Homo sapiens: one gene and its partners. The protein of the gene in region 2 interacts with the protein of the main gene of each other region in a pairwise test. Each region holds a gene or a part of one and is shown on either strand. Other genes may lie near its edges. The genes, in order: SACM1L, DHRS7 and TMEM120A.

Evidence for each region.
Region 1: the proteins of DHRS7 (region 2) and SACM1L interact in binary tests that used the Homo sapiens proteins (3 or more experiments, as listed by UniProt).
Region 3: the proteins of DHRS7 (region 2) and TMEM120A interact in binary tests that used the Homo sapiens proteins (3 or more experiments, as listed by UniProt).

Annotation. Positions count from the first base shown.
Region 1 is NC_000003.12:45,732,872-45,742,904, forward strand, and holds part of SACM1L (phosphatidylinositol-3-phosphatase SAC1), read left to right. Parts: intron 1-2,363; coding exon 2,364-2,502; intron 2,503-4,711; coding exon 4,712-4,781; intron 4,782-4,900; coding exon 4,901-4,973; intron 4,974-5,706; coding exon 5,707-5,800; intron 5,801-5,909; coding exon 5,910-6,002; intron 6,003-6,715; coding exon 6,716-6,773; intron 6,774-10,033.
Region 2 is NC_000014.9:60,160,568-60,171,296, forward strand, and holds the start of DHRS7 (dehydrogenase/reductase SDR family member 7 isoform 1 precursor), read right to left. Parts: upstream 4,832-10,729; 5' UTR 4,743-4,831; coding exon 4,610-4,742; intron 1-4,609. UniProt on the Homo sapiens protein: NADPH-dependent oxidoreductase which catalyzes the reduction of a variety of compounds bearing carbonyl groups including steroids, retinoids and xenobiotics.
Region 3 is NC_000007.14:75,990,370-76,000,231, forward strand, and holds the start of TMEM120A (transmembrane protein 120A), read right to left. Parts: upstream 4,227-9,862; 5' UTR 4,202-4,226; coding exon 4,121-4,201; intron 2,189-4,120; coding exon 2,070-2,188; intron 1,892-2,069; coding exon 1,775-1,891; intron 1-1,774. Other genes in the region: STYXL1 (serine/threonine/tyrosine-interacting-like protein 1), read right to left, coding at 6,099-6,230. UniProt on the Homo sapiens protein: Multifunctional protein involved in mechanosensation, and plays an essential role in lipid metabolism and adipocyte differentiation. May function as a potential ion channel involved in sensing mechanical stimuli.

The DNA of each region.
Region 1 (10,033 bases), on a different chromosome or scaffold from region 2:
CCAAATGCACTTTTTAATTTGTTACACAATAATATAGTAAAACCTCTTGGATAGACATTTGCTCAGTTTTCAAAAATATCTTTTTATATACATTAGGTAATCAACTACAGTTATTTAAATCTGCTTTTTTTCTGTGACGTTTTGCCATGAACACAGAAGGGAAATTGACCTCCTGTTGTTGGGCAATTAGAGAAAACATTGGCTGGCCCTGGCATGTTGTTGGAGGAGGTAGTTCCTTGGGTTCACCCATTAACTGCTGCCGTACAAGAGTGTAAGAAAGAAGGAGAGTTGACTCCAGAGTTTGTGTTCGTTGCTGTTCACTGTGGTCCACAGGGAGAGCAGAGCTTTCACTGGTGACTTTCAGATGATCTCTCGAGACTTTTTTCTAAGGGTTTTGGGGGTAGTGGGAAGAATCTGGGCTTTGGGATCCAACACACCTTGGTTTGAATTTAAGTTTTTCTCTTAGTAGTAATATGACCCAGGGCCACTTAGTTATCTTCAGACTTCGGTTTCTTCATTTGTAAAGTGAAGATGATAACTTACTGTATAGTTTAAGCGATAATGTTTATAACATATCTAGGATTTTATAAGTATTCATGGGGTACGGACACACACACCCTTGCACACACATATATATGTACACCAACTCTAAACGAACCTTACCAATTCTGCATGATCCATATGTAGATTTTTCATCCTAACACATTCTTCCACGCTTTTGTTCCTGAGGTCATGATTTGTATTTAGCCCTTGATGAATCTGTTGCATTTTCTTCCTCCTTTTGGATTTTGGAGAATAGTTTCAATAGTTAACATTATCCAGTATTCGTTGTTTGCTGTGTTCCATACACTGTGCTAAGTACTTTATGTGCATTATGTGTTATCTCATTCAAACCTTAGAGAAGCCTAATGGTGGTGCTGCTGTTACCTCCATTTTGTGGATGAAAAAGCTTACTATTTAAAGTTCTAGAGTTAGTAAGTTGCGTATGATGCTAAGGCTAGCAAACAGATAGTTTGCTTCCTGCATCCATATTCTTAACCACCACACTGTGTGTTGTCAGATTTTTGAATTCATAGAATTATCAAGGAGCTTGTTAAAGAAAACATGGGAACTGGTAACTGTGGTTGGTTGCAGTGCAGACATCTGGATGTTTAAGGGGAGGAAGGGAAACTGATTTTTCAAATAATACCCAATTGTTCTTTATAAATCTTGTACTATTTGCATGTATTACCCATTTAAGAATTTTTTTTTTTTTTTTTGGCTGGGGGCTGTGGCTCACGCCTGTAATCCCAGCACTTTGGGAAGCCAAGGCAGACGGATCACCTGAGGTCAGGAGTTCAAGACCAGCTTGGCCAACATGTCAAAACCCTATCTGTACTAAAAATACAAAAATTAGCCAGGCATGGTGGTGGGTGCCTGTAATCACAGCTACTCAGGAGGCCGAGGCAGGAGAATCACTTGAACCTGGGAGGCAGAGGTTGGAGTGAGCTGAGATCATGCCACTGTGCTTCAGTCTGGGTGACGGAGGGAGATTCCATCTCAAAAAAAAAAGAAAAAGAAAAAAAATATTTTTAAGTATTTAAAAAAAATTTTTTTTAATTTAGATACAGGATATCGCTCTGTCACCCAGGCTGGAGTGCAGTGGTGTGATCATAGTTCACTGCAACCTTTAACCCTTGAGCTCAAGTGATCCTCCCACTTTAGCCTTCTGACTACAGGTAGGCACCACCATGCCTGGCTACGTTTTTGTTCTTTTAGAGGCAGGGACTCGTTATGTTGTCCAGGCTGGTCTCGAACTTCTGAGCTCAAGTAATCCTTCCACCTCAGCCTCCCAAGTAGCTGGGATTACAGGCACGCACCACCACGCCCAGCTAAAAGTATTTTTAATGCAAAATATTCAATCCTTGCCTCAGAGATTCTGATTCAGTTGATCTCAAGGCCAGGAATCTTTTTTCACAAGCAACCCAGAGGATTCTAAAGATAGTATATGAATCATAAAGCCCTGACATCTAGGGATATAGTTGGAATAATTATGTTAGAGGAAACCCTCATCTGGCTTTGGGAAACATGATTGATTTGCACAGCAACCTTTTTAATACTCTTAACTTTACTTTTTCACATCTTTGGGGTGAGATGATCTCTAATCTTCAGCCATTTTTTGGATGGAGGGCTGTCTTGCCTCAGCCATTTAGACTTCTTTTTGGTCTAGGATAATCACATATGCCTGACCACACATTCCTGTCTGACCTTTTAATTTACAGTTTTTAATAATGTCACTGAAATGAGACCCATGTTATAAGAGTTAAGTCCTTAGTAAATCTGACCTACTTTGGTATGAGAGTGTTTATACAAATATGTTTTAGTTATTTTCTAGTGGACTCTGCTGGCCAGGTGGTGGCAAACCAGGAAGGCGTGTTCCGAAGCAATTGCATGGATTGTCTAGATAGAACCAATGTGATCCAGAGTTTGTTAGCTCGTCGTTCACTTCAGGCCCAACTTCAGGTGCGAATGCTTTTTTTTTTTTTAATTGAAAAACAACACAGCAAAAAATTAAACATCTTTAAAACCCAGTAACAAAAAATATTCACATTGCCCACACCCTAACCCAGCTCTTTTTATTTTTGTGTCTTGCCCATGGATGTCACATTTTCCATAACTAGGGTCAGTCTGTGTATGCACAGTTTTCACTTTTGCCATTTTCCCTTAGCATTTATGTAATCACAGTTTCTGGTGGTTGTATTGTTGTGCCGTAATTTACTAAGCCATTCAGATTGCTACATTTTTGGTTTATAAATAACACCGTAGAGAATATATCTGTATATGTTATTATTAACTTGAATTATTTCCTTCATGTTAATTCCTAGAAGTGGAATTACTGGGTTAAAGAGAATAAATATATTATTTTCCAAGAGCGTCATACCAGTTTACACTGACACCAATAATGAATCAGTAAATCCATTTCATTGAACTCTTCCCAGCATTTGATATTTTAATTTTTTTTTTGTTTTTCCTTGAGAAAGTGTCTGGCTCTGTTGCCCAGGCTGGAGTGCAGTGGTGCAGTCTCGGCTTGCTGCAACCTCTGCCTCCTGGGCTCAAGCCATCCTACTAACTCAGCCTCCCACAAAGCTGGGGCTACAGGCATGTGCCACCACACCTGGCTAATTTTTGTATTTTTTTTTGTAGAGACAGGATTTCACCATGTTGCCCAGGTTGGTCTCAAACCCCTGGGCTCAAGCAGTCTACCTGCCTCAGCTCCCAAAGTGCTGGGATTACAGGCTTGAGCCACTGTGTCTAGCCTCTTTTTTTTCTATTTCGTTAATACAAAAGTAGCACCTCAAGATTGTTTCTATTTATCTCTCTCTTATTACTAGCAAGGAATATTGACTCCAAAGTAAAAAGTTTCTGACACAGCTTTGCTTTACCACTAGACTATGCTGTTGAGAAAAATGGTTTTTTTCTTCTGTGTATATTTGGAATGAAAAAGATGTAGAGCCCCAATTTTTAAATCACATTGGCATTTGTTGTGAGGGGCAGACAAAATGCATACCACATGGTTTCCTGTTCAGGTAATTAGTAAGCATTCAGCTTTATTTCTGACAATTGTATGATACCGAGAAAGAAATTATGGAGGTAAAATACCCCCTTCAGAATGAATTGTTCTTGAATCTTAAAGTCACACCTGCCAGAGGAGTGCTGTCCCTGTTGGAGTAGTCTGTAGTTTGTATTGTGCTATGTCCTCGTCTGTTGGAAGGTCTTCTAAGTGTAGTTTTTAATAGAAACAATATTAGGAATGGTTTGGTTCCATGGCTGATTAACCAAAACTTACTTGACTAGGCTCTGCAATCCATATTTTACAATTTTACATGCTATATATAGTATTATGAAACCTAACCAACCTGCAGAGAGTGGGGGCAGGAGCCTCTCCAGCAGCTTTGCCTACTAGTGTAGGGGCTGTCTACTTGTGCCTCTCCAAGTCTGCCAGTGAAGGCAGAGTTCTTACCCAGCTAAAGGTCACCAAGGTGGCTCCTGTGCTGTGTCTGAGGGTGGGAATGACTCCTTCTGAGGTGGAGATGAGGTGTCATCTGAGGTAAGCAATGAAGATGGTGGTTCTCAGAAGTGATGGTCTGAGACAAGGCAGGGACTTGTCATCTGTGGTTGGTGGTCTCCAAAGGGGAGTCTATAGAGGGGATTCAGGGGGCCCAGCAACCCTGGGATATTCTATGTCTGTGTGTGTGCACTTTTGGGGAGGTAGATTAGGTGGCACTCATCAGATTCTTAAAGGTCCCTGGGACAGAGGGTAAGGCTGGGGTGACTCAGGGGTGAAGAAGTTGAGGGATGATGCATGTGAGGGGGTCTCAAGGGGTAGAGGCAGTAGAAGACTGGGGGTAAGAGGGAGGGAGGAAGTAGCGGCTGGAATCCTATAGCAGCTTTCACTCTCTCTTCTGACCCTCTCCCTGAGTATAGTCCTGCTGCTATCCCTCAAGGGAGTGCGGGGGCTGCAAGGCAAAGGTGCCCTCAGGAGAGGCTTTGCAGTCTGCCCTGGGCAGGAGAGGGCTGCTGTGAGCTGGGGCCCCCTATAGACAACAGACATTTCTGGCCTGCATCCAGCAACCAGGCACCATGAGATAAAATTTGGGGACTGCTTTTTCTTCCTAAACCATGTCTGCTAAAATCTATTACACATAAATCTGGGTGTGGTTTTTTATTCCAGAGACTAGGAGTTTTGCATGTGGGACAAAAGCTTGAAGAACAAGATGAATTTGAGAAGATTTACAAAAATGGTAGGTCATTTCTTTAATATAGACAAAGTTGGTCAGATTTTGAAATAAATTAATATTCTGGATTTAGAACTTTGTTTGTCATCTTAATAATTATCAGCTGTTTTTACTTTTTTCTACAGCCTGGGCTGACAACGCAAATGCTTGTGCCAAGCAATATGCGGGAACTGGTGCCTTGAAGACTGACTTTACCAGGCAAGCCATGCTTTTAAAATAGCATTCCACATCAGTAGTTCACAGTCCTGGTGCTTTTAAAAATCACCTGGGCAGCTTTCAGACAGCAGCAGCAACAACAGCAAGACTCCAGCATCTGGGCCTCACTTGAGACCTGTGGAGTCAGGATTTCTGGGAAGTGAGGCCCGGGTACTGGTGTGTTCTTAGCCACCCTGGGAGATTCTGATGCTTGGGGAGGGTTGAGAGCCACCGCTCCACAGTGCTCCTCAGACCTTACCGTGTACCTGAAGCACCAGTCTTGAGATGTGCTCTAAAAAGCACCCAGGTGATGCTGATGCTGCTTTCAAAGACTGCACTGAGTAATGAGGACATTAATGAGAACATTTTGAATGTATTATGCATGCAGTGGCTCTTTTTCTGCTATGTGGGTTCCCTGGGAGCAGAATAAGATTTCTAGTCTGTTTGCTTTGCTGTGTCCTACCACTTAACCTGGGCTATGTATTTCTCTTCATATTTCTTGTCTTTGCAACTGGAATTAGTGTGTTTCTTTGTGCCTCCTTTGGTAATATTTTAGAAAGAAAATAGGTATTTCTTGGACCTACAAGTGATTTCTTTTGTGAAGTATCTGTATTTTCAGGGATAGTTTTTAAAATCTGTCACTCACTTATTTCTATACCTTATGCTTATTGGCCATAAAACAGTGTGAGAATTCAGTGTACAAACCTGTAACTTAAAATTTAACCTCTTTAACCAGAACTGGAAAGAGAACTCATTTGGGACTTATAATGGATGGCTGGAACTCAATGATACGATATTATAAGAACAACTTTTCCGATGGATTTAGACAAGTAAGTTTGTATTTGATGCTTTCCTGGCATTACGTGGTTGTATCTTTGCATTGTTCATCACTAATGTTATCTCACACTGAGTTTACGAATTTCTTCCTTTCTGTTCTAGGATTCCATAGACTTATTTCTTGGAAACTATTCAGTGGATGAATTAGAATCTCATAGTCCTTTAAGTGTTCCAAGGGACTGGAAATTCCTGGCTGTAAGAAACCATTTTGTATTTTTCAAGTTTTTAAAAGCATTGTGTCTGAAGGTATAGATGGTTTCAGTCTCAATTTAAAACGTTATATGTGGTTTTATATTTCATTACATGAAATATAAATACTTAAGTTTTCCAAAGAGGTCAGGCTGAGGAGTACAGTAACTGTGGAGCATTTGTTTTCTTTTCCTCAGACTCTCACACATCCTTTTCATGTGAAGTAACATAAGCAAAGGGAATGTGGAAGCTTTCTCATTTCAGGAAAACTTCAATTCTCTTACATTGAGGGAATTGCCAGAGACAAACGTGTTACATGGAAGGCAAAGTTTATTTTTGATGCTTCTCTCCTTTTTGACTCCTCTGTTCACCAGACCCTGCAAGAGCCGCTCTGGATTTTCTTTCCAGTGTGTCAAGTGCTCTGGAATGGAAGGGAGGCCTAGTGTTCTAGGTCCTCATCTGGGCATCCTCCTTCCATTTAGCACCCTTTGGCTTGGAGCAAAAGCATGCTTCTTCCGATCTTACCACATCCCCCATCTAAAGTCTAGGGCAGTTGTGATTGAACCCATAAATAATAATGTTTTGTTGACAAAAGATATTAGCTGTGTATTAGCTGACAGATGAGTTTTATTCTTTTCCCAAGCAATGCATGCACAACTGATTTTGCTGCCATTGATTAGCATTCTTAAATGATGATCTCTTTCTATTGTCTTTTCCAGTTGCCTATTATCATGGTTGTTGCCTTTTCAATGTGCATTATCTGTTTGCTTATGGCTGGTAAGTCTGCTCCACACATTTGTTTCTTAGTTAGAATGTTGACCTTTCTTTTACAACATCTTAAGTTTTTGAGTTCACCGAACACTTGATGTTTCCCTATTAAATTTAATGGGTAAAGTGGATGTGACATTAGATTGTCATTAGATGTGACAGGAAGAAAAATAACATACCTAGTAGTTTGATGGTTGTCGTTTTTTTTAACCTCAGATTTTAAAAACATGTTTTTCTTATTACTGTAAACCAATGAGTGTCTGAGACAGGTCTCAGTCAGTTTAGAGGCTTAATTTGCCAAGGTTGAGGACCTGCCCAGGAAAAAGAGACACAAGATACAGTAGGATCAGTATCTTGTGCTTTTTCCAAAGAGGGTTTTAAGGACTTCAGTATTAAATGGGGAAAGAGTGTACAGGAGAGGAAGGAGGAATGGAAACAAAAGGGGAGGGTAGGTAGTAAGATAAGTGGTCACATTCTTGTGAGGCTTTGATTAGCACTCACTGAATCCATGTTACATGTGAAAGGACGGGGTAGAGGAACAGTCAATTATGCATTCATCTCCTGCTCAGTAAATCTGCATTTTATGTAAGACAAAGTAAACATAGAGTAGATAAAGAAGTCAGATCTGCATTTGTTTTGGGGTGGGCGGAGGGATGATTTTCTAGTCTTGTCTTTGTCCCATACCTGTGAAAATAAACTGTTAATTTACATTGTCAGGGTGAGGGAGATTCAACAGGACTGTCTTTTAGGGTAAAGATTTTGGGGCCCACAAGGAATTTGCTTGTGACAGTTTGTGAGGGTGGCCATCTGTGAGGATATGTGGCCCACTATCTTTGCAGCTGTCTACTTAGGAACAAAAGGAGGGTAGTTTTGTGAGACTCAGTTCCCAAGTTTAACTTTTTCCTTTGGCATAGTAAATTTGGAGTCCTGAGATTTTATTTTCCTTTCACATTACCAAAGTAATACATAGTAATTATAGAAAGCACACGTAGGCAGAAAAGGAGAAAATATTATTTATCATCATACCTTTGAGAGAGAAGCTAACCACTCTTAACATTTTGATGTTTTAATCTTTATAAGTGTCTGTGATTTTTTTTCAAAAGTGAGATACGTATTTTCATTATCTGCTTTTTTTCACTGAGCAGTATGTTTTCCCATGTTCTTAATTGCTAATGGCTGCAAAGTATTCCATTTATGGATGTATAGTTTAACCAACTCAAATAAATGTTAATGGATTAAGATATTACTTATCATTACATTTTAAAGGTTGAGAGTAAAATTGCCTGAGAACCTGAGGAGACAAGGTCTTTACTGGTTTTCTTTTTTCTCTTAATATTTTGCTATGTTACTGAGTTAATAAAGCATTTAAGATTAAAGTGAGAAGAATGTATTCTTTATTCTCCTTTGAGTAATGTCCTGTAATTTGGAGGTTTGAGTCTGAGACTTGGTGTATTGGACGTTGGAGATGCAATCCTAGTCACTCTGAAAGAAGAGGCACCTTCCAGCCTTCATCCTCTATCCTGAATTCGTTGAGCCAACCTCTCTCTGCCTGTCTGAATTCCACCATCCTCAGGGCACCATTCATATGCTCCCCTCTCACAGAGTGTCTCTCCCACACAGAAGTCTTCACCTTCTGTCTGGATTTCCACAGCACTCCTGGTCCTCTCTCCCAGCACTTTCCTCTTTTAACCTCATTAATACATAGGGAGTTATTTTTCAGAGGTGGTATACCTCTTTGGTGTACCTGACATACCCAGTGTGTATTTCTTTTTGGATGGTAATGATTTGCATACTTGTTTGTTTTTTTCACTGGATCAGCAACTTTTTGAAGGTAAAGACTGTGTCTTACTCATTGTTTTATCTCCTTTGTCCAGGATATAGTGAGCCCTCAGTAAATGTTTGCTGAATTAAGGACTCACTCCACCACCACCACTAATTCTGTCACCTTTTTGATAGGGAGGCTCAGTTACCTGTTCATCTCTGTATTCCCCTCAGTGCTCAGCCCTGTAGACAGTCGTGACATAGTTTTAACTAAATGCTGAAATGTTGAGTAGGGGGAAAGAAAGAGCCATCTTATTATTATTATAGTTAGCAAAATTTTTCTGTAAAGAGCCAGGTAGTAAATATTTTTGTCTTTATGGATGGCTGTACATTCTTTGTTTTTGTGTTTATAACCATTTAAAAATGTAAAAAGCATTCTTACCTTACAATACAAAAACAGGTTGAAGCACAGGTATTGCCTGGGACATGACTGCAGGTTTTAGGGCAGGAAGGAAGAGGCAGCATGTGCCGGTTCCTCAGCGGCCAGCCCTGCTTTCATTTCCTCTCTGGGTCCTCTGCCTTCTTTCCTGAAAACACTGCCCAGCGCATGCCATTTTTGGGGAGCCACTCTACTGTTAAATTAGTTCATTTTGTTGTTGTGACTATACCCACATTTACTTAAAGAACCTCTGGAGAGGCAGGAAAGTCAAGACCAAGAACTCTGCTTGAATGAAACGGATGATTCCTTTAGGGAGTGTCCAGCAGAGTGGCTAACAAGGAACTGCCCTTCTTCTTTTGTCCAAGAAGAATTTTAAACTTCAGAGCCATGAAAATGAGCAATTATGCAAATTCGAGTATATTTTGAGTAAAAAGAGATTGGATGCTGTGGATGGTAACTTCTCATGTCAGTTTATTCTTATGATAAACTTTGTGATGTTTGGTTATGGTAATATCTGATTTCTAGCTCCTGCTGTGGTTTTCAAAGAGAATAGAAAACAAATGTAGCATGATCTCTGAGGGCTTGTTAGGAAGGAGTCTGGATGCTAGTTTCTTCCGTGGTGTGCTCACTGGCTGTCATTCCCTGTATGTATTTCTCCTTCTGCAAATGAGGCCAGTAGTGTTGCAGAGAGAGAAGCTATTCTCTAGGTTCAGCTATTCAAGGAGTAAAACAAAGTAGATCTTTGCCCACCGGCTTGCTGCTAACCTTTATGAACTTCGGACTTTGGAAAATGCATATCAGCAGAGTTGGGTTAAATATGTCATTAAAATAGGTTATTGGCTGGGTGCTGTGGTGTGTGCCTATAGTCCCAGCTACTCAGGAGGCTGAAGTGGGAGGATCACTTGAGCCCAGGAGTTCTGGTCTGTAGTGTGTTATGCTGATCGGATGTCCGCACTAAGTTCAGCATCAATATGGTGACCTCTTTGAGCAGGAGATCACCAGGTTGCCTAAGGAATGGTGAACTAGTACAGGTTGGAAACAGCAGGACAAAACTTTCATGCTGATCAGT
Region 2 (10,729 bases):
ACTAACCTGTTTTTTGGCGGGGGGACGGGGGGAGGGGACAAGGCCTGGCTCTGTCACCCAAGCTGGAGTGCAGTGGCATGATCTTGGCTCCCTGCAACCTCCACGGCTCAGGCTCAAGCCAACCTCCCACCTCAGCCTCCCAAGTAGCTGGGACTACAGGCGTGTACCATCATGCCCGGCTAATTTTTTTGTGTGTATTTTTTTGTAGATATGAGGTTTTGCCATGTTGCCTAGGCTGGTCTCGAACTTGTGAGCTCTAGCGATTTGCCCACCTCAGCCTCCCAAAGTGCTGGGATTACAGGCGTGAGCTACCGCATCTGGCCAACTTTGACTAATCTTATGTACCACATCTGGAAGAGAACAGTTACAAAGAGTTTGGTCTCAAGGTATATTTCTACTCAGCAGATTAACTTTTGCAAAATTCCTTAAGAATGTATTAGTATCAGAACTGTGAAAAATGGGAGTTTCAGATGTACACTTATTGATAATCTTGCTCAGTTTTATCCTGCTTGTTCTCCCAGAATTTTTTGTAAACTCAACTCCTCTGTTTACAGAGTTTTAGTCACTTTTAACAATTTTTTAAAATTCAGTTTGTAGACTCCATTTGTTAAGGGAATCAATATCAGAAGTAATACTAAAATGTTATAATAGGAAAAGGGATCCACTAATATAGCTTATGGTTATTAGAGCTGGGCTACCTTTAATCATGGAATAATCTTATGTATAGGTGTAAGAATGACTCACTATATGAATACATACTAATCATATTACAAACATTTTGCATCCCTTTTGTGACCTAGACAGACATTTAAATTGTGTTGCAATTCTGCTTTCTTGTTTTACAAAAAGCTGTTTCAGGAAGAAAAGAAAAGAAATGAAACCTGTCTTCTAAATGACAATCCCTCACAGCTGTTAGGGAAGACAGCCATTATGTCTTCCCTAAGTCCTTTCATCTCTTACCTTCTCTAAGGCTAAATAAACCTATCCAATTTCTGCCACCTTCCCTCACATGACATGGTATCAGGTTTCCTCACTCTTCTGCTCACACCCACCTGCACCAATTCTAGTTGGTTAATGTTCCTCTTTATTAAAGGGAGCTGGCTAGGGCAGGACACAGGATTCGGTAGGGTCTGGACAGTGCAGAGCAGGATGAGATGTCAAAAATCACTTCCCTTGTCCCCCAGAAGGTAGGGTCTATGAGGGCCTGGACTGTGGCTGATTCAGTCACTGCAGTGTCCCCAGTGCCCCAGCACAGAGGCCGGCACATACAAGCAGCTAGTCAGGAGACATCTGTTGTTTGCAGTTGTTGCTTCAGACACTGAGGTCTACAAATGCAACCCAAGGTTGCCTGATCTTTTCTGGCAGCCACTTCACAGTTGACTCCTATTGAGGTTACTGTTAACAAAAACCTGAGTTTTGCTCACATGTGCTGCTGTTGAAATTTTTCCTCCTCTAGACTTGTGCCATGGATTTTTCTGGACCATTTTAATGTCTAAAATTAGTCACCCTTAAATTTCACCATATGTGGCTGGGCTTGGCAGTTCACATCTGTTATCCTAGCACTTTGAGAGGCCAAGGTGGAAGGATCACTTGAGGCCAGGAGTTCAAGACCAGCCTGGAACATAGTGAGAGCCTGTTTCTACAAAAAGTTTAAAAATATCCAGGTGTGGTGGTTTGCACCTGTAGTCCTAGCTACTGGGGAGGCTGAGGTGGGAGGATTGCCTGAGCCCAGGAGTTCGAGGCTGCAGTGAGCTATGATCATGCCACTGCACTCCAGGCTGGGTGACAAAGCAAGACCTTGTCTCTCTATTAAAAAAAAAAAAAAATCACCATGTGAGATATATGCTTGGAAATGCACAGAATTTCTCTAGACGGATACAGAGGAGGCAGGAAATGGTGGCTGCCTCGAGAGAAGCACACTAGGTAGCTAGGGCACAAGGGTCAGAGAAAGCTCTTTACTTTTTACTATATATCTTTTTGTATTTTTACTTTTGTATTATGTGAGTGTGCTATTTTTTTAAGTGACAAAAAATAATAAACCTACAGAGAAGTCAAGAAGGATTTTTTTTTCTTTTTTCATCTTGATAGAGTCTGCCCATCTCTCCAGTCTGAGCTGTTTTGGGAATCTGAGTCTATTTCAATTTTCCTTTAATCTTTTCTTCTTTCTCACTCCCTACCTCCACCAGGAGTCTTTTTAGACTTTTTTTTCCCCTAAAACTCTCCTGTGAAATGTTAATTCCACAGATATACTGTATATCATTTATGTACTGTACATATATCTGTGCTTTATACATAAAAGGAGTTCTATAAAGTTTACTCCTGCCAGGCGCAGTGGCTAATGCCTGTAATCCCAACACTTTGGGAGGCAGAGCGGGGTGGATCACCTGAGGTCAGGGGTTTGAGACTAGCCTGGCCAACATGGCGAAACCCCAGGTCTACTAAAAATACAAAACTTACCCATGCGTGGTGGCACGCACCTGTAATCCCAGCTACTAGGGAGGCTGAAGCAGGAGAATCACTTGAACCCAGGAGATAGAGGTTGCAGTGAGCCAAGATCATACCACTGCACTCCAGCCTGGCCAACAGAGCGAGACTCTGTCTCAAAAAAAAAAAGAAAAAGAAAAAAAGCTTACTCCTTAGTTAATAAGCATATGACTAAATAAGCATATGACTAAATTTTAAAATTAAGTTAAATGTTAAATTAAAATTTAAAAGTTATTAACTTCTAACTTTATAACTGTATTTGCTGAAAAACATTTTTATGGTTTTTGAGACAGTGTCTCACTATGCTGCCCAGGCTGGTCTTGAACTCCTGGGCTCAAATGACCCTCCTACCTTAGCCTCCAGAGTAGTTGGGATTGCAGGTACATGCCACCACGCCAGATTTTTGCTGAATAACTTTTATGTAACTTACTTAGATAAATAGCAATTTATCAAACTACATGTGCAAATTTGCAAATTATATAACTACATAATGATAACAATGTAATTAAATTTAAAATCCTTCAAACTGTTCTTTTCCGACAAAACACAACTGAAAATATTAAATGAATTTCTTAAAATTTTCAATGATCTTAACTTTTAACTTTTCCTTAATATGAGAAAATAACTTTTAACTTAGTAGCTTAGAGATATTCATTCAGATGTTGTCAATAATTTTGCTTTTTAGCACTTGACATAATTTGATGGGTTGAATATTTTTTGTAGGATTAAATAATAAAATATAATCTATTTTCGTTTAATTCTCCAAGTCCAAGTGAACACAAAAGCACTAAAGATCAAACACAAACAACGTCTGCAAGGCAGCCAATGGCAGCCAATAGGCACACATATTCCCCCGCTGAGGTGGAACAATCGATCAAGAGAAAGCCCTTGGTTAATGAAGTTGTGCAGTATTTGGGATTCCTGCTTTAAAAGGAGAAAGCCCAATCACTTGCCATAGTTTTGTAGCACTGCTGTGGCGTCCATGTTGTGTATTTTTCGTGAACTCAATGTCAGTGCTGCACATGCTATACCCAAGAAAACCCAACCAGAAAAATGAAATACTAAGGAATAATATTTTCTCGGGTGGGGTTAAGCTTTGGAGGGGCACAAACCACTGTATTACCAGATTTTTTTTTTTTTTTTTTTTTGTCCACAGGAACCAATTCTCACCTTGGGATCAATATCACCCCCCTCAACGCCCAACCCATAACGCCCCCCCCAAACATAGTCTATCTTTCGAGCTACTATCTCTTCCAAGCAAACTTTGTAACATGCTTTGAGTATTTTTATACCAGAAACTTGGTCCAGGGAAACCCCATTTCCCCAAGTCCTTAAGGATCCAAAGCCTAGCTTTCGGTAGGTCATTTAATTTCTCTGAACATCAGTTTCCCTATCTGGAAAATAAGATTAATAATGCCTACCTTGTAAGAGTTGTTGTAAAAGTTAAATGTTATGTGTGTAAAGCGCTGAGCCAACATACAGCAAATGTACACGATGTCAAATATTAAGCAAGACACAGATAAAGTGAGATAGGCAGTATGCCAATAATGATCTCGCTCCAGCAAACTGCCATTTTTAGTTCTTTCTAGTGTTTGACTAGAATGAGTAAGTAGGTGAAGGACTTCGGATTATCTCAGATTTTATTTCAAAACTGCAGGAGTGGGAAGTGGAGGACAGACTACTTCAGGTAGTAGAACGACCGGGCTTCCGGTACTTACAAAGGAGTTTCCCTTACAAACGCAGGGGGACGCTCACTGTTTCTCAAAGTATCGTCCTCTGAGACAACACCAGAATCCCTTGAGTCCTGCGTAAGATGTCAGAGTCCTCAGGAGCACCGCCGACTCCAGTGCTCTCTTAACAGTTTGGCACTCCCTGGAGAGGTTTCCTAGCCTGAATGGCAAGTCCATGCCATCTTCCGACCAGTACAGAAGACAAAGGGGCTTTTTAGCCCTCGCCTCTTCCTCCCCAACCCGCAGCCCCTGCGTAAGGGGCAGCCGGGCCTTCGGGAAGCTCCACGCAACCCACAAAGGACCCGGGATCACTGCAGAACCCCCGGAGACCCGGACACGCCTCGGCAGCTCCGAGCCCGGCCTCCCACTCGGGAGAGGCTTTGGCCGGTCCTCACCTGGGCGTCGTCCCTGCCACTCGGCCCATAGTAGCGTCAGGTCGCCGTCAGCCCTCAGGAAGCGCAGCAGCTGCACCAAGAGCAGGAGCAGCGCGCACAGCACCAGCAGCCACAGCAGCAGCTCCCAGTTCATTGCGGCCGCGCACGCCCAGCTCGGGGGGAAGAAGACGGCCCGCACCAGAGTCGCGTCGCTGCCCTGCGGGATCGCAGCGCCACCCCTTCGGCCAGCCCAGAGCCGCACTGCCCCGGCTCCGCCCAGGGAGCAGGCCGGGAGGAGGAGCGGCTCGGGCGCGCCGGGCTCAGCACTCGCGGCCCCACTCGCGGTCCTTGGGCGGCCCGCGCCCTCATGCGGCACACCCGGCGGGGCCGGCAGATTGCTTGAATTCAAGTGTCCGAGACCAGCCTGGGCAACATGAGGAAACCCTGTGTCTACCAAAAATAAATAAATAAAATTCCAGTATTTTTAAAGAAGCTGATTCAAACATAAGCTACATATTATACTACGTTATTTCCTCTCTGTACAGGGACACTATCAACGGCCAGGAGACAGATAGAATCATTCTTGCTTGGCCCCTCTTCTCCATTCCTATTCAGAAAGAACATCCCCTTTTCAAGCTTCAGTATCTTTTCATGAGGTCGAGAAAGTGCTGAAGAAAGACTGTGGCTATCACTCAAGACCCCACAAGCCAAGGCAATGGTCCCTCCATGGGGACAAGGTCCTTTTACAATTAGAGAAAAAAAGACTGAAGCCATGTGCTGTGTTGGCACCTTACAACCTGATTCTGACCACACACAAATTTACTCTGGTGTCTGTTTGGCAACCAAAGCCTAGGTTGGTACCAAATCCTCCCCTTACCCAAGCCATTATTCACATCCTAATGTAAACAGCAAATAAAAACAGAGAATGTAATGAAAACACCAAGGTCTTGCCTACTCTAATACACAAAAGAGTAAAATACTGTTTTTGATTAATTTCCGTTTGAAATGACCTTCAAAACATTTAATTGCTTCCCACTAAATACCTACATGTATTTGAGGCATCAATAGTAGCATCTTTCTTGTTTTCAAGCATTTGAAAGCAAGAGGGTTTTCCATTCACAAGCCTCAGAGGGACCCAGTTAGAGTGCATAGAAACTAGGCCATGTATGAGAACGACCTGTGGCCAAATGGAGAAAGTTCTGGGCGTTGATGCAGTAGAACTTTCATCCTCTTCATTTCCTAGAGTACTTTGTGTGCTCTGATGTCAAAGGCTCTTCCTTGGCTGAAACTAAATATGACTTTAAAACAGTCATGGAAATAAAAGAAGCAGTGACTTCCCTCCCCAGTGTTGTTTTCTTTTTCTAGTCTTGCCTGCCAAACTTTTGTTTTTCTTTAAATGTTTTGAAGAATGTTACTTGCAGTAATCAAATTTCCTTAAATAGCTCTTCCTTCTCTTTTTAAATCCTATTATAAACCCCCTACCTGCCTCCCCACCCTCATCCTTCTCTAAAAAGCTTTTTGGGGTTATCTGGACTCAGAGTCATCTTTCCCTAATCTCACCTCTTTTCACAATTACTTCTGAACTATATCTGAAATTGTTTTTTAATTATTTTCAGGGTTAATATAGTATTGTTCCAATGGAACTTTAGAATCCTTGAAATAAAGTAGCAAATCTGATGCTTCTTTTGAAGAGTCTGGAATACATAGCTTAGTGTTGACATGAGAAGCAATAAGCCCACGTTGATTGAATTCTCCTTTCCTTGAAATTTAAACCTCCTTGATAGAGAGTAGAAGGATAGTTACCAGAGGCTGAGAAGAGTAGTGGGAGGGTTGGGGGGGACGTGGAGATGGTTAACGGATACAAAAAATAGAAAGAATGAATAAGACCTAGTATTTGATAGTGCAATGGGGTGCCTATAGTCAATAATAATTTAGTTGTATGTTTTAAAACAACCAGAAGAGTATAATTGGATTGTTTGTAACATAAAGGATAAATGCTTGAGGGGGTGGATACCCCATTTACCATGATGTGATTATTACACATTGTATGCCTGTATCAAAGTATCTCATGTACTCCATAAATATATACACCTACTGTGTACCCACAAAAATTAAAAATTAAAATTCAATTTTTTAAAACCTCCTTGAAGTTCGGAAGTTAATGTTAAAATGAGAGTTGCTAGCATTTAATAAATCAATCTTCTCTAAGTATTATTAAAATGCTTTGAATAAAGTCCGAAAGTCTTTTCTATAACTGGTAACCTTCATTTTTAATTCCAGATGTAATAGAATGGTACCCTGCCTTCCCTCCTTTTAGTAATGGTCACTTTTGATGGTCTGGGGTCAGGCCCATTCATGGCAGCTAAGGCCCATTCATGGCAGCTAAGGCCCATTCAGGTCAGCTAAGATGAAGGCAGTTGTGCGTAAGCAATTGCCATCTTCCATAACAAAAGCATTATACAAAAATAACTTTAAAAATCCAGATCCTCCAAGATCGGCAGTCCCTAGGCGGGGGAAAAAAAGAGTGAGTGGAAACTGTGAGTGGAAACAGGGACTGAGGAATCTAGGGAGGGAATATTCTTCCTCAAGAACAATAAGGGGTTTGTGGTTTTTGATTGAGGATGTTTTCACATCCCTTAGATGCTTTTGGAAATGTGTTGGATGAACAGTGGCCATAGTGCCAGCTAGCCAGGGTGTCATCAGAGTGCTAACGATCTGGGCACTATGTAAAGACATACCCAACAAAGAATTGCCCTGCCCCAAAAGCTCACAGCACCCTTACTCAGAAATCCTGCAACCTGGCCACGGTGGAGAGGAGCTCTGCAATCTATTAGCAGCCTCCCTCCACAAGCTCTGGCTTACACCTGCCTGGCTGTACCCCAGCTACAAGCGTTCAGGTCATGGTCTAGTTTTCTGATATTCTTCAGGCAGACAAGGTCTTACCTAGAGTCTTATTTATAAGAAAATATAACTTACTTTCTTACCTTTAGTAATCTCATGGGATCCCTCAATAGGAATATCTCACTGCACTGTTCACCACATGCAGTTCCCCATATCAGTGCATTGATATTTTGTTTAGATTAGCCAATTTCCACAGTATCTTGGGTCTCTTAAACATAAGCAGTTTATAGCTCTCATTCTCTCTCCCTTAAATGCTCTGTTTCAAACTTCCCTTTATATATCTTGTCCATGATTTAGTAGTGGTGGTTGTTATTCTAATCTAGAACTTCAAACACTCATGCACACATGAGTACATGCAAAGCTGGTGAAATTTGAACGAGGTCTGTGGATTTTGCCAATACCAATTCCCTGGTTCTGTTATTGTTCTAAAATTATGTAAAATTTACTAGTGGGGAGAACGGGGTACAGAGTACACGTCTGTTCCATCTTTGCAACTTCCTGTGAATCTATAATCATTTTAAAGTAAAAAGTTAAAAAAATTAGGTTAAATTTCTTAAAATATGCAAATATTTTCTTAAAATTCTAAAACTGATCAATGCTTTTTCCTCTCCTTCTCTTTTTTCTCCCCTCTCCAGCCAGGACCAGCCTTGGAGATAAGCAGAGTGAACAGAAATTTATGGTCTCAGATTTAAGAAAAACAAAATTCTTTCTTGCTTCTTAAATCATACTCCATCCCATTGGCTTGCAAACATGCTGACACTCCTCATAATTTCACTCTTCATAAACCAAAGCATAAGGTCAGAGGAGAACTTGACATATTAGAACACTTAGGCATTGAAAGTGGTTAGTCTAACTAACCCATTGAAGTTTTGGAGAACCTGGGACTCAAATTTTGGAAGATGTGACAGATGATATGTTAACATACATTGCACCGAGGCTGAAGTGGGAGGATTGCTTGAGACTGCCTGGAAGGCAGAAGTTGCAGTGAGCCGAGACTGATGGTGTCACTGCACTCCAGCCTGGGCAACAGAGCAAGACCCTGTCTTAAAAAAACAAAACAAACAAACAAAAGAAACCAAAAAAAAAAAAAAAAAAAAAAAAAAAACCATTGCACCAAGTAACAGTCAACTTTTCAGCAGAGGTGAGTAGAGTTAATCAGTTAAGGCTTTCTGGAATACCAGCCCACCTCAAGGCCTTGTACATACTGTTCTCTCCACATAGAGGGATGGCCAGAAATCCCCCAGATGGATCCAACAATGCTCACCTCCTGTGTGCAAACCACCATGTATTTCCCTCCCAGGTTGTATCAGGGTTGATCACTGTAACCAGCAGAATGCTGCAGAAATGATGAGTGTGTGACTCCCAAGGATAGGTCACAGAAGCTATTGCAGCTTCTACCTCTTGCTCTCTCTTGTTTATACCTTTACTAAAGTATAATTCGAGTACAAGAAACTGCACATATTTAAGGTATACAACTTGATGAGTTTGTCAAATATATACACCTGTGAAACCATCACCACAATCAAGGTAAACATTTCAATCACCCCCAAAAGGGGTGACCCTTTGAAATCCACCCATCCTCCACCCCTTCCCTAGGCAGCCACTGATCTATTCTCTGTCACTGTATGGAAACACCTTACCTGTTTCCTCTGTGGGATGTAAAGTCCCATTTCTGGATCCTTTCAGGTCCCTGTCTAATGTCTATTCTCTTTGCCTTGCCCTTACTTTTGTTCAGATCAACTTTAGCCTTAGCAGGGAATTTGGTTTTGTAATTCCGAACCCTAAGCAGTCTTGGATTGCTGTCTGCTGAGATGGGGCATGAGAGCAGTGAGGAGCGTGATCTCTTTTAACAAAGCCGTATGCTGTTCCCAGCTATCTAAGACCAAGGCTTATCTCTTTCTAGTAGGATCTTGACAGGAGCCACAAGAAGTAACCAAGACAACAAGAGTTAACCTGTCCATATGCTTTCTAATTGCCAGGCCTATTCTAAGTGCTTTATATATATTAAATCCCTTAATCTTCACAATAATCCAGTTAATTAGGTACTATTTTAATTCCCATTTCCCTGATGAGGAAGCTTAATTGTGATTAAGTAACTTGCCCTAGGTCACACAGCTAGGAGACAGGGTCTTTGAACCTAGGTAGTCTAATTTCAGTCTTTGCTCTTGAACCACCATATAATACTGCCTCTCACACCAGAGCAGCCTAATTTTGTTCTGCTGGATTCCCTGAAGCTTCTACCTTAGTATGTACAGGTCTGAATCCCAAAGAAACTACAATAACATCTTAATGAGCTGCTTCATTACCATATCATAAAGACTGCCCACTTCCCACCCAGGGATGGAGGGAGATGGAGAGAGCCTCACTGCCTCCTACTCCACCTTGACACAGTAGTTCACATTTTAGGATATTTCATTTCTAGCACTCTACTTCTGGGTACCAATGTCTCAATCAGTCGGTACTCTCAATCGCAAATGGCAGAGACCCACTAAAATTAGCTTACGAGAAATGTTAAGGAATGTATTTGTGCCCCCATAGGTAAATCCCCTACCCTAAGGATGTGGCCTGCCTCTGCAACCAACCTGAGGTCCAGGTGAAAACCACTAACCTGTGGGCCAGGAGCCCAAGCACAGCACTGAGGCCTGTTACTTGGAGACAGAAGTGCTCAGGCAGAGTCCAGGGTCATTACCTTCATTTGGTAAGAATTTTGATGTTGATTTCTAGTGTCTAGAGACCTCAATATCCAAAATAAACATTAATATATTAATTTTCTAGGGCCGCCATAACAAAATATCACAGACTGGATGGCTTAAACAACAGAAATTTATTTTCTCACAGTGCTGGAGTCTAGAAGTTCAAGGTCAAGGTGCTGACAGGGCTGGTTTCCTCTGAGGTCCCCCTCCTTGACTTGAAGACCACCCCCTCTCCTTGTCTCATACCTCAGAAAAAGAAAGAGAATTCAAAAGTTACAGAAAGGCAAAAATAAGATCAATAGTCAGACAGCCCACTGCAGCACCTCCAGCCTGGTAGTTAAAAATCAACCCCTGACCTAACTGCTTGTATTATCCATAGATTCCAGGCATTGTGTGAAGAAGCATTGTGAAATTTTCTGTTCTGTTCTGTTCTGCTCTGTCTTGATTACCGGTGCATGCAGCCCAAGTCCCATACCCCATGCTTGCTCAATCGATCACAACCCTTTCACGTAGACCACCTTAGAGTTGTAAGCCCTTAAAGGGGGCA
Region 3 (9,862 bases), on a different chromosome or scaffold from region 2:
CCCACTAGCCCTTCTCGCTCTCCCCAGGCTTCCCTCCATCACCTCCTGCCCTTCTCCTGGGTCTTTCCCCTCTCGGCCCCTCTTCTCAGCAGGTGGATGTGCTCGAGTCTTCCCAGAGGCAAAGTAACCCCACAAACAGGCAGTAGCTGCCCCTCAACCCAGTGCTAATTTCCAGTTCCTAGTTGCTAATTCTCTCCCTCCACTCACAGCCAAGCTCTAAAAAGTCTCCCAGAGGGCTGGGTGCGGTGGCTCACACCTGTAATCCCAGCACTTTGGGAGGCCGAGGCGGGTGGATCATGAGGTCAGAAGATCGAGACCAGCCTGACCAACATGGTGAAACCCCATCTCTACTAAAAATACAAAATACAAAAATACAAAAATTAGCCGGGTGTGGTGGCGGGCACCTGTAATCCCAGCTACTCCGGAGGCTGAGGCAGGAGAATCGCTTGAACCACGGAGACAGAGGTTGCAGTGAGCCGAGATCAAGTGACTGCACTCCAGCCTAGCGACAGAGTGAGACTCTGTCTCAAAAAAAAAAAAAAAAAAAAAAAGTCTCCTAGACTTGGCTGTCTCCCTTCCTTGGCTCTTCTGTCATCCCCAAGATCGACATCCATCCCCTTCCACCAAATGGTTCTGCCAAGATGACCCAACTTCCAGGAAGCGCATCCCCTTCCTTATCACAGGACTGACCCCAGGCTACGGACACTCCTTTCTTCTCCCTGCCTTCTGGGCCACGCCCTCTCCCAGCTATCTCCCTGCCTGCAGCCTCTGCTGGGATTTTTTGCTCAGCAGGGGGTTTTGCACTGCCCCATCCGTCCTCCTGGGTGACAGCTGCTGGCCTTTCCAGGTGCACATTCCACCGCCCCCGCCCGCCTACTGGGCTCAAGGCAAGAGCTGCAGCCCAGCAAAGCCTCTGATCTCTTGGCTGCCTCTCACCTCCCGCCCCGACCTCTGGCCACTACAAGTTCTCATGGCCCGTCCACCTGCTGCTACCTCTCGCCCTCAGCCCATGTGTCTGCCTCATTTTTTTTATTTATTTACTTATTTATTTTTTAAGACAGAGTCTCACTCTGTTGCCCAGGCTACAGTCCGGTGGTGCGATCTCAGCTCACTGCAGCCTCCGCCTCCCGGGTTCAAGTGATTCTCCTGTCTCAGCCTCCCAAGTAGCTGGGATTACAGGTGCATGCCACAATGCCCGGCTAATTTTTGTATTTTTAGTAGAGATGGGTTTTACCATGTTGCCCAGGCGGGTCTTGAACTCCCGACCTCAAGCGATCTGCCTTGGCTTCCCAAAAAAGTGCTGGGATTACAGGCATGAGCCACCGCGCCCAGCCTATTTGTTCTTTTTAAATAAATAGAGACATAGGGTCTCAGTATGTCACCCAGGCTGGTCTTGAACTCCTGAGTTCAAGTGATCCTCCCACCTCCATCTCCCAGAGTGCTGAGATTACAGGTGAGAGCCACCACGCCCGGCCCACTCTTTATTCTGTAAGACTCAGCCCACCCATCCCCTAATCCAGGAAGCCTTCTGCGACCTCCTGGACTGGGTCAGGTGTCCCTCACTGTGCCACCTCATTCCCCATGCTACAAAGCACCTATCACAGTGAAATGTCACTCTCAGCCAGGTGTCTCCCCTGAAGTCAGCACTGTGCCTCATTGCTCAGCCTGTACTGGGCCCAGGGAACATTTGCTGACTATAATGACCAAGAGGAGGCAGCACCCGGCTTCAGGAGTGGCTGTGAACTGAGCTGGGGGTGGCGGTGGGGGCCCTCACCCATTCTTCTTAGGCAAATAGGCCTCCATGTCAAAGAAGAGGCCTTGGCGCTCTTTCATCTGGTTCTCCAGCTCCTGTGCGGCCCCCTCGGCCTCTGCTGGGAGGGAGGGTTTGCATCTGCGGGTAAGGCCAGAAACAGTCAGGGCAAGAGGACTCCCAAGTGTCCTCCCTGACTCCCACAGGGGCAGAAGGGCAAACAGGGCCCAGAGAGGGGAGGGGCGGTGCCCAGGGTCTCACAGCGCCAGCCCTCCCACCCCACACTCTGCCCATGGCGGGTGGGGTAGGGGATCCTAACTTCTTCAGGGCGAGGGCCAGCTCCTGGAGCCGCTTCTTCTGCCGCGTGATGGAGCTGGTGCAATTGTTCTGAAGTTTGGTCAGCTCCTCCAGCTTCAGGCGGTAGAGCCGATGGGTCTCCTGGGGGCCGGAGGGGAGAGGCTCAGGCCAGTTGGGGAGCTACTGAGCCAGAGCCTGCAGGCAGGACGTGGCGCTCAGGCTCCCCCAGGGCTGCTGGGAGGGTTTCGCTCAGCGGGAAAGGAGGTAGAACTGTGCCTGCCCAGGGATGAGGTGGCTGTCTCCCCAAGGCAGGCAAGGACCTGGGTGTCCTCCTGTGAGCCCAGAGACCCCCACAGCACCCCTCCTCCAAAAACAGACTAGGTGTTTTTGTTTTTGTTTTTGTTTTGAGACAGTCTTGTTCTGTTGCCCAGGCTGAAGTGCAATGGCAGGATCTCAGCTCACTCCAACCTCCGCCTCCCGGGTTCAAACCATTCTTCTGCCTCAGCCTCCCAAGTAGCTAGGATTACAGGCACCTGCCATCATGCCTGGCTAATTTTTGTATTTTTGTAGAGACAGGGTTTCACCATGTTGGCCAGGCTGGTCTTGAACTCCTGACCTCAGGTGATCTGCCTGCCTCGGCCTCCCAAAGTGCTGGGATTACAGGCATAAGCCACCGCACCCAGCCAAGGTTTTCTTAGTCTCAGCCCATCTGCTAGTTGTCCCCACCCTACAAGGACAGACTCTTTCTCCTACCTTGAGTCTGGAGCTTAGGCCCCCAGGGCCACCTCCTGGACCAAGCAGGCAGCCCAGAGCCACCCCTCTATCCTCTCAGCTCCTCCTGCCTATCTAGCCTTCCAGTACAGGAGGAGCTCAGGTTCTCAGGAATCCCTGACATCTTCTTCCCAGGTTAAAGGTCATCAGGTTTCAACCCTAGAGCCTCCTGCTCTAAGGCCAGCCCCACTCCCTTCCCCTAGCACCTTTGGCCCAAGGATTCCCCAAGCACTTTGCCCTGGTAGGTGAGTCTCAAGAAGGCGCAGCCTAGAGATGGGGCAAGGGGCAGTGTGAGGAGAGCCAAGCAGGGGCTGTGGCCAGGACAGCGGCGGCCAGGCGGGGAGACTGGGTCTGCTCAGTCTCTGGGGAGAAGCACCAATGGCAGGGGCCTTGGCAGGGCCAGGGGCAGCTGGGTTTCAATGCCCACAGGAAGCAGTTGGAACCAGTCCAGGAGAGGCCAAGGGCTAACCAAGCCATCAGCTGGCCAGGGCTCTACTCTGTCTGGATCTTGTTTCTCATGCCCAGGAGGGGTCACCACGCCCCCTCGGACCCCAGCACGTGCCACTTCTGCCCACCCACAGCCACCGCCCTCTTCCCTGCCTGGATGAGGCCAACAGCCTCCTCCTCCCTGGCCTCTGGACAGAACAGCCACGGTGGCCCTGGGGAGCTCAGTCCAGACAATTCCTCCCGTAGCTTTCCACTGGCCTCGGAGGGACTCTGATCTCTGCCAGGCCAGAGCGTCCCTGCAGGGCCTAGCCCCGCCCACCCCTCCCACCCGTCCCACCCCTCCCCTGGTTCTCCTTGATGCAGCCACATGGGCCTGTCAAGTCCCCTCTTTCCTTCCAAAGGCCTCGGCGGCGCGCGGTATCCCTCTGCCTGGGGCGTCCCCCATCCAGGCCGAGGACACCCCCCTAAACGCTGCTCCCCCGACCTGGGCTGCCTCTCGGGCGCTGCCCGCTGCGCGTTTGCTGAGTGGCTGACCCAAGGCTGGGCCCGCCCGTGTGTGACTCAGGCGGCCGCTCTCTTCTGGGAAGGGACGGGGTCGGGGTCTGGGCCCCTTTCCAAGGCCCTCATTGGAAGCCGAGGTCGCCCAGCGCGATGGGGTCCCGCCGGGGTTCCCGGACACTGGAGGTGGTGGCAGTGGACACCAGGACCAGGGGCCTCGCCCCCCTTGGCAGTGACGCCAGGGCCCCGACCCCTGACCCTTAGCTCCCCACTGCCTGACCCAGGGCTGCCCGACCCTTGACCCTGAGCCAGCGAGACGCGGCTCGGGGGCGACCCGGCGTCCGCAGCGGCGCTAACCTGGATGTTCTGGAAGTCCTGCTGTAGATCCTCCCAGTCCCGCAGGCAGTCGCCCAGCGGGCCCGGGGGCGGGGGCTGCATGGCTGCAGCGCCAGTAGCCAGTAGTGGAGGACGGCGCAGCAACCCCGGCCCACCCGAGGCTCCTCCGCCACCGCCCCCGTCCGCTTCCGGGCTCGCGCCGCCACGGGCACCAATGGGGAAAGGCCACGCCCCCCACCCCAGCCAATCCGGGACAGGGGCGGGGTATGGGCGGGGCCGTATGCAAGGGCGGTTGCTAGCCCCGGGACTCGCGGCCTGGACCGGGACTGGGACGGCTGCAGCCCCCGGGCCTGGACTGCACTGACTGTGCCAGCCGCGTGGTGCAGCCAGCAGGGCTCTGGCCCGTCATGCTGAGAGCAAACCAAGGTGCAGGGAGGTGACACCTGCTTGCAACATTTTCGTCCTTGGGAAGCTGAGCCTCTTTGGGGAAGGGAGTTAGAGCTGCTTCTCTCGCTTGGATTTTTACAGCGGCCTCCTTTCTCCCTGCCTCACCTCCACTGTCCCTTCTCGCGGCCACCGGACTGCCCTTCCCAAAACACAAGGCTGATTCCCCATCATGTTCATGCTTAAAACTTTCCAGCGGCTGTGTCCTGCCTACCAGGAGGTCCCTAATCGGAGCTCTGCAGCCATCCCGGGCTCTGTCCCAACTCACACCCTGAGGAAAGCCAGGGCTGTGTGTAAAGCCGTTCCCCCTCTGGCAAAACCCCACTCCTCCTTGAAGGCCTGCCCTTCTGTTGAGGGGAATCCCCCACCCCCTCCCACCCCCATCCCTCCACAGAGCGCGCTAAGTGGTGGGACGGCATTCATCTCTCTGTTCCCAGCCCCACCCACGCGGTGGCAGGGAATGGTTGCCGAATGGACTTGGGGAAGGTCCTGCATGGATGGACATCCTAATCCCCTACCAGTCCCCTAGTCTGTGCCGTCTCCTGATGCCCAGTTTGTTCTGTGGGTGCTGCCAGCTTTGGAGAAGTGCATTTGGAAAACAACTTCCAACTGGGTGCCGTGGCCCACACCTGTAATCCCAGCATTTTGGGGAGGCCGAGGCTGGAGGATCACTTGAGCCCAGAAGTTCGAGACCAGCCTAGGCAACAGAGCAAGACCCTGTTTCTACAAAAATAAAAATAAATTAGCCAGGTGTGATGGTGCATGCCTGCATTCCCAGCTACTCACTCAGGAGGTTGAGGTGGGAGGATCGCTTGAGCCCAGGGAAGTTGAGGCTGCAGTGAGCCATGATTGCGCCACTGCACTCCAGCCTGAGAGACACAGCAAGACCGTGCCTCCAAAAAAAAGGAAAGGGGGTAAAAAAAAGGAAAACTTTTAAGACCTTAGGAATTTCTAGAAACGTGGATAGGGAGATGGGGGAGGGGGTGAGAATCTCTCCTTGGTGAACACAGCCAGGCAGAAATGAGTGGGGAGCAGGGAAAGAAAATCTGTTTCAAGGGGTGGATGGCAGGAAGCGCTGGGGATGAGGCAAGGGTGTGATCCCATTCTAGGAGCCTGGGGGCTAGACAAGGCTGGGCTTGGTATCTCTGGGACTAGGGGACTGCCTATTGGTGGCTATTGTGACATCCTCTGTGAACCAACACAGGCAACCTCTGGGTACCCCCAGGCAGCCTCCAAAGGGTCTAAGTCACCAGGGGGATGCAGGGCAGCTGCTCTAGCAGCCAGATGCTCTTCCAGAGGCAGCCTCAGGGGTGCAGTTGGGATGGCCCGCGACACCTCAGGGATGCGGGTTCTTGGTGAACCTGAGCAGGGCGCATCAGCTAGGTGGCGTGAACAGGCACTTGGGAAGAATCAGTACAGGAGGCTAACATGAGACTTTCAGGCAGCAAAGGCCTTCTCCTTCCAGACAAGCCTGGGTATACACACTCTGGCCCTCCACCCACAAAATGCCCCCAGGTGAGGCTCTTCAGTACCCTTCGGTGGGCCTCGGAGAAGATCAGTAGAGCGGATCCATGATGTTTGTGATGGAATCTCCAAGGATAGTCTTCTCCCATTCCAGCAGCTGGCTCACCAATCCCCGATTTGGACACATGTTGTTTTTGCACTTCTTGACATAGGCCCAGGACCTCTATGAATACAAAGAGAGAAAGTGAACTTCACGATTGGTCCTGGGCCCTTTCCACTTGGATCAGAGGCAGCTTTCAGAGACAGGAGGCACTTGCACAGTGCCAGCAACACGGCTTAAGGGCTGGATGCAGAAACAGGGCAGCCTGGCATGAATGCATCAGTGCTGGGAGTCATGGGAGCTGACTCTGCCTTGGGCAAGCCCCTCTGCTTCTAAATCTGGTGACAGAAATAATTCCTATTTCAAACAGCTTCTGGGAAGATTAAGACAATATACATGAAACCACCTGTGGATGGCAAACACTATGCCAAGCCTAGTGCAGTCTCAACAAAGGTTTGCATTGTGACTGGACAAATTAATGGAAAGAGGAAGAGAACTGTGGGCAAATTCTCTGAAGAAGAAAATTCAAGCTGCCCTCCTTCAGGCATCCACCTTAAAGTACAGGAAGTGTTGCTGCATGAAGGAGGGTGAGCACCTGGTCTCCATCTGGATTGAGGACAAACGAAAAAGGGAAAGGCAAGAGTGGTGCCTAAAACTAGGAACAGAAGGAAATGGCCAGGCACAGTGGCTCATGCCTGTAATCCTGGCACTTTGGGGGGCCGAGACGGGTGGATCACCTGAGGTCAGGAGTTCGAGACTAGCCTGGCCAATGTGGCGAAACCCTGTCTCTACTAAAAAAATGCAAAAATTAGCCAAGTATGGTGGCACATGCCTGTAATCCCAGCTACTTGGGTGGCTGAGGCAGGAAAATTGCTTGAACCTGGGAGGCGGAGGTTGCAGTGAGCCGAGATTGCACCACTGCACTCCAGCCTGGGTGACAGAGCAAGACTCTGTCTCAAAAACAAAAAAGGAAGGAAGTGATGTCAACCTGATAAAGGCCATATATGAGAAGCCCACAGCTAACATCACACTCAATGGCGAAAGATAAAGTTTTTCCTCTAAGATCGGGAACAAGGCAAGGGTGCTTGCTTTCATCACTTCTGTTCAACATAGTCCTAGAAGTCCTAGCCAGAACAATGAGGCAAGAAAAAGAAATAAAAGGCATCTACAATGGATAGGAAGAAGTAACCTTACCTCTGGTTTGAAGATGACATGATTTCATATGTAGAAAACCCTAAAGATTACACACACACACAACACACACACACAGCTAATAAATTCAGCAAGGATGCAGGATACAAAACCAACATGCAAAAATTAGTTGCATGTCTATATACTAAACAATTCAAAAAGGAAATTAAGAAAACAATTCCATTTACAGTAGCATCAAAAAGAATAAAATATTTAACCAAGGAGGCAAAAGACTTGTACACTGAAAACTCCAAAACAGTGCTGAAAGAAATTAAAGGTACAAACAAATGAAAAGACATCCTGTGTTCATGGGTTGGAAAGCTTAATATTATTAAGATGCCAATACAACTCAAAGTAATCCACAGGTTTAAGGCAATCCCTATCAAAATCCCAACAACATTTTTTGTAGAAATAGAAAAATCCATCCTAAAATTCATATGGAATCTCAAAGGACCCCATAAAAAATATTTAAGAAGAACAAAGTTGTAGGTCTCACACTTCCTGATTTCAAACCTTAGTCTAACAAAACTACAGTAATCAAAACAGTATGGTATGGACATGAAGACAAAGAGACTAGTGGAATAGAATAGCCAGCCTAGCCTAGAAATAAACCCTTACCTATATGGTCAAGCAATTTTTTTTTTTTTTGAGACTGAGTCTCACTCTGTTGCCCAGGCTGGAGTGCAATTGTGCAATCTCAGCTTACTGCAACCTCCGCCTCCTGGGTTCAAGTGATCCTTGTGCCTCAGCCTCCCAAGTAACTGGGATTACAGGCATGTGCCACCACGCCTGGCTCATTTTTGTATTTTTAGCAGAGACGAGGTTTTGCCATGTCAGCCAGGCTGGTCTCAAACTCCTGACCTCAGGTGATCTGCCCACCTCTGCCTCCCAACCTGCTGGGATTACAGGTGTGAGCCACTGCACCGGGCCTGTCAAGGAATTTTTGATAGTATGCCAAGACCATTCGATGGGGGAAAAGGACAGTCATTTCAACAAATGGTGCTAGGAAAACTAGATACGCCATGCAAAGAATGAAATTGAAAACAGGAAATCAATAGAGAAAATCAAAAAAACCAAAAGCCGGTTCTTTGAAAAGATCAATAAAATCGATACACCGCTAGCCAGGCTAACTTAAACAGAAGACACAAATTACTAATACAGAAGTGAAAGAGAAGACATTGCTACAGATCCCACAGACATTAAAAGGATAATAGAAGAATATTCATATCCACAAATGTGATTGATCAATTCCTTGAAAGACACAGACTGCCAAAACTCACACAAGAAGAAACAGACAATCTGAATAGGCCTACATATATTAAAGAAATTGAGTGGTGGCAGATGCCTGTAGTCCCAGTTACTCGGGAGGCTGAGGCAGAAGAATGGCATGAGCCCGGGAGGCAGAGCTTGCAGTGAGTCGAGATTGTGCTACTGTACTCCAGCCTGGGTGACAGAGCGAGACTCCGTCTCAAAAAAAAATAAATAAATAAAATAACAATAATAAATTGAATCAATAATTAGTAACCTTCCAAAACAGAAAGCACCCAGCCTAGATGGGTTTATTGGTGAATTCCACACATATAATGGAATATTATTCAGCCTTAAAAGGAAGGAACTTATATAAGGTACCTAGAGTAGTCAAATTCACAGAGACAAAAAGTAGAATGGTGGTTCCCACGGGGCGATGAAGAGGGGAAAGTAAAGAGTTGCTGTTTCAGGTTTGCAAGATGGAAAAGTTTGGGAGATTAGTTGTACAATAATGTGAATGTACTTAATGCTCCTAAGCTATACATTTTAAAATAGTTAAGATGGTAATTTTTTTGTTGTGTGTGTGTGTGTGTGTATGTGTGTGTGTGTGTGTGTGTGTGTGTGTGTGTGTGTGTGTATATTTTTTTTTGAGACAGAGTTTCGCTCTTGTCACCCAGGCTGGAGTACAATGGTGCAATCTCAGCTCACTGCTGCCTCTGCCTCCCAGCTTCTAGCGATTCTCCTGCCTCAGCCTCCAGAGTAGCTGGGATTACAGGCACGCACCACCACGCCCAGCTAATTTTTGTATTTTTAGTAGAGGGGGTTTCACTATGTTGGCCAGGCTGGTCTTGAACTCCTGACCTCAGGTGATCTGCCCGCCTCGGCCTCCCACAATGCTGGGATTACAGGCGTGAGCCACCGCGCCCGGCCTGTTATGTATATTTTAACCACAATTTTTTTTAAAGTGGTGTGAGGGGCAGAGCTGTGCAGTCAAAAGGCTTACTATGTCCTCGCTGGGTCAGAACAGGCCCTGGAGGAAGAATCGTAAACCACCCATCCCCCACCACCACCCCACACATCGCCTGGCCAAGATGGTGAAACCCTGTCTCTACTAAAAATACAAAAATTAGCCGGGCATGGTGACACGGACCTGTAATCCCAGCTACGCGGGAGGCAGAGACAGGAGAATCGCTTGAACCCAGGAGGCAGAGGGTGCAGTGGAGGTTCAAGAATCGCTTGAACCCAGGAGGTGGAGATTGCACCACTGCACTCCAGCCTGGGCAACAGAACAAGACTCCATCTCAAAAAAAAAAAAA